Linked DNA regions of Homo sapiens. The protein of the gene in region 1 interacts with the protein of each later gene in a pairwise test. Each region holds a gene or a part of one and is shown in the gene's direction. Other genes may lie near its edges.

Evidence for each region.
Region 2: the proteins of AAGAB (region 1) and HEATR1 interact in a two-hybrid assay, tested with the Homo sapiens proteins (one large-scale study listed by BioGRID).

What each region holds. Positions count from the first base shown.
Region 1 is NC_000015.10:67,234,162-67,237,987, reverse strand, and holds part of AAGAB (alpha- and gamma-adaptin-binding protein p34), read left to right. Parts: intron 1-1,167; coding exon 1,168-1,358; intron 1,359-1,483; coding exon 1,484-1,580; intron 1,581-1,919; coding exon 1,920-2,009; intron 2,010-3,826. UniProt on the Homo sapiens protein: May be involved in endocytic recycling of growth factor receptors such as EGFR.
Region 2 is NC_000001.11:236,597,722-236,601,547, reverse strand, and holds part of HEATR1 (HEAT repeat-containing protein 1), read left to right. Parts: intron 1-1,923; coding exon 1,924-2,065; intron 2,066-3,568; coding exon 3,569-3,670; intron 3,671-3,826. UniProt on the Homo sapiens protein: Ribosome biogenesis factor; required for recruitment of Myc to nucleoli. Involved in nucleolar processing of pre-18S ribosomal RNA. Required for optimal pre-ribosomal RNA transcription by RNA polymerase I.

The sequences.
Region 1 (3,826 bases):
CCTAGCAGTCTTTTGGACTAAATAATTTCCCCATAACTTTATGTTGAGCAAAAATGATGGCAACTTTTCAAATATATAATGTTAGCTCTGGGAGTTAAAATTTAATTTCTAGTTTTCAGTGTCTTGCTAATTATGAGTTTGAGGCACATTTCATTAATACGTGTTCATCTTAGTATGCATTGACGAGGAGTTTGTGACTGTTTTTCATTATATTCTTCTGATAAGTCAATTAATGGCATGTCATTTTACTTCTATAAGCTGATTTTCCACATTTGTATAAAGTGGAGGTTATGGGTATGGGTGTGAGAGACGGGAGTTTAGGTTGGAACAACTTCTAACTTCTCTTCCAGTTGTAAATACTGTATAACATAATGGAAGCAAAATGCTTCCATGGCTCCATAACCATGTCTATATTCATTTGTTCACCATTGACTTGTCTCTTACTGTGGGGATTTCCTGTTATATACATGCTGCACATAGATTTCCAAAAGATTCAGTTATAATCTAAAACATTTATAGTAATTTGCTTGGCTATTACACATTTAAAATTTATCGGAAGTGTCTTGATCAAACAAGAATTTAGGTTGGCTTTCAAAGAATGTGAACAAGGCTGAATATAAATAGGATTGGGGTCATTTATCAGTATCCATTCTTTTATTTCATTAGCTGAATTAATGTCTAAGCATTCAGTCCAAGAAATATATGTAGCTCTTCTATTTTATTAATGGTTTAGCCTTAATCCTATCTTCCTTTTAGTTTGCAATAAGTACAAAATAGTTACAAATTCTAGAAGATTGTTATTGTCTACCTCCTATGAAGTACTTAAGCAATACAATAAATAGAGCTGTCATTCTTTGTCTTCTACTTGCTCTTTTCTGGATATTTGGTTATATGACTGTTTTTTCCTTTACTACTGTCTAATCTAGTTCACAATGATTTTTGTGTTCTTAAAGAGAAAATGTCAATGACTTAAATTATATCACCATAACTTTTATAATCAGATGATCAGAGAATATAGGATTAAAGCTAATAAATGCAGGGTCCTTTGAAATCCTCACATAAAAGGAAACAGCAAAAGTACCAGCTTTATCTGGTATCTGACTGAGAAAATCAACCAATGTATATTGGTTTTGCACTTTACATGGTAATGTTGTCATTTATTTTTAGATATCCTTGGAACAGAAGATCTTATTGTGGAAGTGACTTCCAATGATGCTGTGAGATTTTATCCCTGGACCATTGATAATAAATACTATTCAGCAGACATCAATCTATGTGTGGTGCCAAACAAATTTCTTGTTACTGCAGAGATTGCAGAATCTGTCCAAGCATTTGTGGTTTACTTTGACAGCACACAAGTAAGACTTTGTTTTCTATGAAGGCTTGAATAAGAAATTATTGCATGCCTTCTTTTTTTCCCATTACATTTTGTCTGACTATCTCTTTTCTGTTTTTGTTTGTTTATATTTTTTGTTCCCTCTAGAAATCGGGCCTTGATAGTGTCTCCTCATGGCTTCCACTGGCAAAAGCATGGTTACCTGAGGTGATGATCTTGGTCTGCGATAGAGTGTCTGAAGATGGTAAGGCCTGTGGATGGGACAGTAGTTGGTACATGCATTTGCCATTCCTTGATAAACAGAGTACATCTGTTTCTTTAACTTAGGACATACATCCCATGTGACTTTATGGCTTTATGAAAATATTTTCAGCTATTTTTCTTTGGAATCTTGTAATACTTACTTTTTTTTTAAGAATGGATACTTCGGGGCTGAGAAGTCATTTTCTTTTTATTATTTTAGATGCCTTTAGAATAACATTGACATTAAGGGAAACACATTGAGATTTGTGAAGAATATTGCAGGAATAGTCATGTTTTATTTTCTTTTTACTTATGAAGATTCTTTTGCATATTATTTTAGGTATAAACCGACAAAAAGCTCAAGAATGGTGCATCAAACATGGCTTTGAATTGGTAGAACTTAGTCCAGAGGAGTTGCCTGAGGAGGATGGTAAGTGTTTATGTGTTAGGAGAAAATATGGCACTTAGATATGAGAGATTATTTTAATTCAGGGAAGAAGAATCACAGCAAAATTCAAGAAACTTTTTTCCCCAGCTGTTTCAAGGATTTAAGCAAAATCCATTGATGTAATCTTATAATCTTACACTTAGTGTAATAATTCATTTTTTTGGTTTTACCACCTGTTTTAGAACTTTTGAAAATGTGTGTTTTTCTTATGGATAAAGGTATAGGGCTGCTTTCTAAAATCTTTGTCATTTCCATAATCCTTTTTCCTTTCCCTACTGCTGAAGAAGGAGAGTTAGACCTTCGTAGTAGTTAAAGTTGATGTTTCTTATTTTGAATTCATAGTAACCTAAGGCTGAATTCCCAAGAATCGCAGGGGACATTTCAAATCCATTTGAATGTCTTTTGGACATTTGAAGCCAAAAGATAGACCCCAAATTTAATCCCCCACCTCCACCCCAGGTAGCTCTGCAATCGCTGTCCTCCGCTATTGCTGGACCTTCTATTTCTTCCCCTCTTCTACTCCCCTTCCCCATTTCTTTTCTCATCTTTTCTCCTTTGAAGTACACCTGTTTTGGTATCTACCAGGATAAGAGGGTTTTTGGTTCACCAAAACCTTATAATCTGGTACAAGAGATGAAACTTACAGATAATTGAATTACCAAGTGGAATGTCATAAGTATTATAGAAGAAATAGTAGTGCTGTGGTATTTTAGAGACCGGAGAGCTTATTTTTGTTTAAAAGTGCAGAGAACGTGTTGGCATTGTGACCTCTCACATGTCAGCTGCTCCATGGGGAAGAAGTTAGAAAAGGTCCTGGGCTTGTAGTGAGAGGACTGCTGGAGAGGTGGCATTGTGAATATGCCAGTTGTTCCAAAAGACATTCTGGGCAGGGGCAACCAACGTGAATTAAAGTACATAGATAAGACATAAGCAGTCATTTCAAGAAACTTGTATTTTTCTTCAAGGAATTAAGAAATATTTTTCTATATTCTGGTTTTATTTATAATTTTTCCAAAATGCTGTTACCTTTGAGAATAAAACCTGCTGGAGAAGAAGAGAACAAAACTGAAATAAAAACTCTGGTTTTTCTCCTTGCTCATTTTAAAGAGTGTTGAAAATTAGCATGTACATCTTTTTCTGTGTTTTTCTAGGTCCCTGAAACTTGTGCCCTGTTTTGTGTATGTGAGCCTGTGTGATTTCTGGCACTAGAATTTTCTCTTTCTCTTGTCCTTGGGAGTCAGTATTTGACTGTTATCATTTTGGAATCTCTGCTCCTTTATACTACTTTATTTCTCGTAGCCCTTTGTCTGAATAATGTTCTTGTATTCATTCAGCTTAATCTTAAAATGGGTTTTTTGATATGTCATCTTTAGGTAAGGTAATGAAAACCTTCCTAGACTTTTAAAATACAAATTATTCCTAAGCCATATTTCCTCATCTTTTACTTGCATGTATTATTCAAACATGAATATAGGACTTTATGCTAGTTTGTATTAATTTTCCTCTTACTGGTACTAGCTCTTCATTTCAGACCACATTTTTGGTTCCTGGTTATATCATCTAAAGTATTAGTTATTCTTTTGAGAATTAAGTCATTCACAATTAAGATAAACATGACTTTTAGGTCTTCATCCAGACATTGGTGGTGATAAACTTATCTTGGTAGAGTATTTTCTTTCTTTATTTTTATTTATTTATTTATTTATTTGAGACAGAGTCTCTCTCTGTTGCCCAGGCTGGAGTGCAGTGGCACGATCTCTGCTCACTGCAAGCTCCACCTCCTAGATTCACGCCATTCT
Region 2 (3,826 bases), on another chromosome or scaffold:
TACAGGCATGAGCCACCACATCCAGTCCAACTTACATGTTTTAAAAGTAGATTTCTATTCCATTAATTGGAGACATGGCTTCAAGGCCAGCCTGGCCAGCATGGTAAAACCTGTCTGTGTGAAAAATACAAAAATTAGCTGGGCGCAGTGGCGAGCACTTGTAATTCTAGCTACTTGGGAGGCTGAGGCAGGAGAATTGCTTGAATCCAGGAGACAGATTTTGCAGTGAGCTGAGATCACGCCACTGCACTCCAGCCTGGGTAACAGGGAGACGCCGTATCAAAAAAAAAAAACAAAAAATGGAGACGTGGGGATAAACTAATTTTTTTTCAAGAAGCAAGTGAGTCATCAAGAAAACATGATTTTAACTTGGGTCTTCTGATTGTCAGAACATTAGGGCAATCAGACAAAGAATATTTAAAAGTCTGTAATATTTCCATCTGTTTTCTAGCACCTAACTTTACCCCCAAATAGATCATTAATGTAAGGAATACTTTTTGCATTTGATTTTTCATTTTATGTCTTCAGATAACTTATTTATTCAGCAAATACTAAGTTCAGTACATAGATAAGTAGGTTGCCGTTGATTACTGTTTTGAAATAAATGCCATAATAAAGGATTAAGCAGAGTTTTGTGGATATAGTTCTGCCTGGAATAGTTGAAGAAAGCTTCATGGAAAAAGTAACCGCTAAAACCGTATGTCAAACTAAGAGGCTGGGTTCAGTGGCTCACGCCTGTAATCCCAGCACTTTGAGAGGCTGAGGCAGGCCAGTCACTTGAGATCAGGAGTTTGAGACGAGCCTGACCAACATGGTGAATCCCTGTCTCTACTAGAAATACAAAAAAAAATTAGCTGGGTGTGGTGCTGTGCACCTGTAATTCCAGCTACTTGGGAGGCTAGGGCATGAGAATCGCTTGAACTTGGGAGGCGAAGGTTGCAGTGAGCTGAGATCACACCACTGCACTCCAGCCTGGGTGACCAAGTAGACTCTGGAAAAAAAAAAAAATCTAATAAAAGGCAATGTATGGTACTGTTTAAAAAAAGTACACGATGTAAAAGGATAGGAGAGTTTTCACAGAAGAGGGATCAGTTGGCAGAATTAGAAAAAACATCTTAGCCAGGCATGGTGGCTCACACCTGTAGTCCTAGCACTTTGGGAGGCTGAGGCAGGTAGATTGCCTGAGCTCAGGAGTTGGAGACCAGCCTGGGCAACATGGTGAAACCCCATCTCTACTAAAGTAAAAAAAAAAAATTAGCTGGGCATGGTGGTATGAGTTTGTAGTCCCAGCTACTTGGGAGGCGGAGGCAGGAGAATCTTTTAAACTTGGAGGTGGAGGTTGCAGTGAGCCGAGATTGTGCCACTGCACTCCAGCCTGGGCAACAGCAAGACTCCCTCTCAAAAAAAAAAAAAAAAAAAAAAAAAAAAATGTTGACAGACCAGCCTGGGCAACACAGGGAGACCTAGTCTCTACACAGAAATAAAAAATTAGCCAGCTGTGATGGTGCTCCCCTGTGGTCCCAGCTACTCAGGAGACCTAGGTGGGAGGATCATTTGAGCCTGGGAGGTTGAGGCTGCAGTGACCCGTGATCGTGCCACTGCACTCCAGCCTGAGTGGCAGAGCAAGACTCTATTCAAAAAATTAAATAAAAATTGTAAAGCTGAGAGAAAGTTAATGGGATGTATATTTTGATGTAGAATATTCAAAGATATTGCATAGGAATTGGCTGGACCATGTTGAGGGATATGTGAATGCAAAATTGGGGACTTTTTAAATGCTCTGTATCTTATAATTTTGTGATTTTTACTGCTACTCGTTCTAGGTTGTTTTAGCTTATTAATAATACAGTTTGGGCATGTGAGGAAATAGGTGCTTATTATTAAGTTTTGTGTTCAGTTGGACTGTTTGCTTTTTTTCCCCAGGTTCCATATACATCTCTATAATCAAGATAGCCTCATTGCTTGTGTTCTGCCATACCACGAGACAAGAATATTTGTGCGAGTCATACAGCTTCTAAAAATTAATAATTCAAAGCACAGATGGTTCTGGTTGTTGCCAGTTAAGGTATAATTGCTGAATGACATATGTCTGTAATCATTACAGATCTTGATTAAGGGATTTAATTAGGAAAAAATAAGTCATTGCTCCTGGGGATAGTCCAGATAACTACCTCCATCATTTTTATTTCCTGACTTCCAATTGAAACTATTATTAATGTTAATAATATTTAGCTTTTATTTAGTATCTGACATCAGGCTAGGCAATGTACATTATATTATCTTGGATTATCACAAAACTTCATTTTTACAGATGAGGACAGGCTACTTGCCAAAGTTCACATAACTATAAAGTGGCAGAGTTGAGATTTGAACCCAAATCTGATTCCAGAGTCTGTGCCTTTGTATCGTACCATGCCGTTTGGCATTTTAAATTTGGAACTGAGAACTTAAAAAAAAGTTGAAGGTGAAGAAAGGCAGAAAATACTTACAAAAATTAAAAGGATAAGGATAACTTCAGGGGTTTCAAGAATTTACTAAAGTTGTGAGGAAGATGCTAGGAGTTAATTTACAGACTAAGAAAAGGATGCTTGTATAACAGGAAGGGTCTGGGTAAGAAAAGACAGCATGCTATTGTAGGAAAACCAACTGACTAACCGTTAGCACTTTGTTTGCAACATATGGTGGAGGAAAGTAGATGTATGTTGTTAGCAGGAACTTGACTGCATGTTGGGCATGGTGATCCAGGGTAGGGGGGGAGGCAAATGGGGATGAAGGTAAGCTAACAGATCACGAGGCTGTGCACATTAGGCTGATGATGGTAGTGGGGTCAGTGTTCAGAATTAGTAAGATAGGAGTAATGAGGACTTTTTAATTAGAAGGAGAATTTAAGAATCTGAACGTAAAGCACTTGAACTAAAGAATGTTGGAGAAGGCCAGCCTTTGATAAAGCTCATTAACTGCTCTTCCCAACATTCACTCTGCCCATAGCATCAAAATTATTCTTCCTCTAATCTACCTTGGATCTTGCTGCTCCCTAGGCACTCTTATTGCAGGTAGCCAAACTCCACTCACCTACTAAAGTTCACTTAAAATTCTCCTTTCATTTATTTAATCAGTATTTATGGAGCATCTATTACATACCATGTACAACGCTAGATGGTGGGAATAGTGGTATAAGTTGTGCAGTTTCCTAGTCTATTTCTGTTCTTAGTGTTATTGTAAAGCAATGACAGAAGCGTATCATAGTGGCTCAGAAACCAAATCGAACCAGTAAAGTTACTAAGAATCTAGAGAATCCAGATTTTGATAAATACCTTTCAAAATGTGACATACGATAAGCAAACATCTTTCACTAAATACCTCTGCCCTCATTGCTGACCTTCTCTTTTGAATTTCTAAGTTTACATGATTTTATGTGTTAATTTCATCACCACCACCAGTTATAAGGAGAGATTATATTTTTTATTTATGAATTGTAGCAGTATGAAGACATTACTAGGGTAAATGCTTTAAAATAAGGATCAGTTGATGAATGTTGCTAGTAGTTTGTTCTTTCCATCAATAACAGCAATCTGGAGTGCCGTTAGCTAAAGGAACTTTGATTACCCACTGCTACAAAGATCTTGGATTCATGGATTTCATTTGCAGTTTGGTGACAAAATCTGTGAAGGTGAGCAGTCTGTTTCATGAGTATATAATTTTATGAAAAGATTGCTTGCTTTGAATGAAGAAAACATACTAAAACATTCCCTAATAACAATGATACTTTGGATAAATTTATTTTGTTAAATGGTCTGGTGTTTTGAAGCAGGAGCAGTTTGAGAGT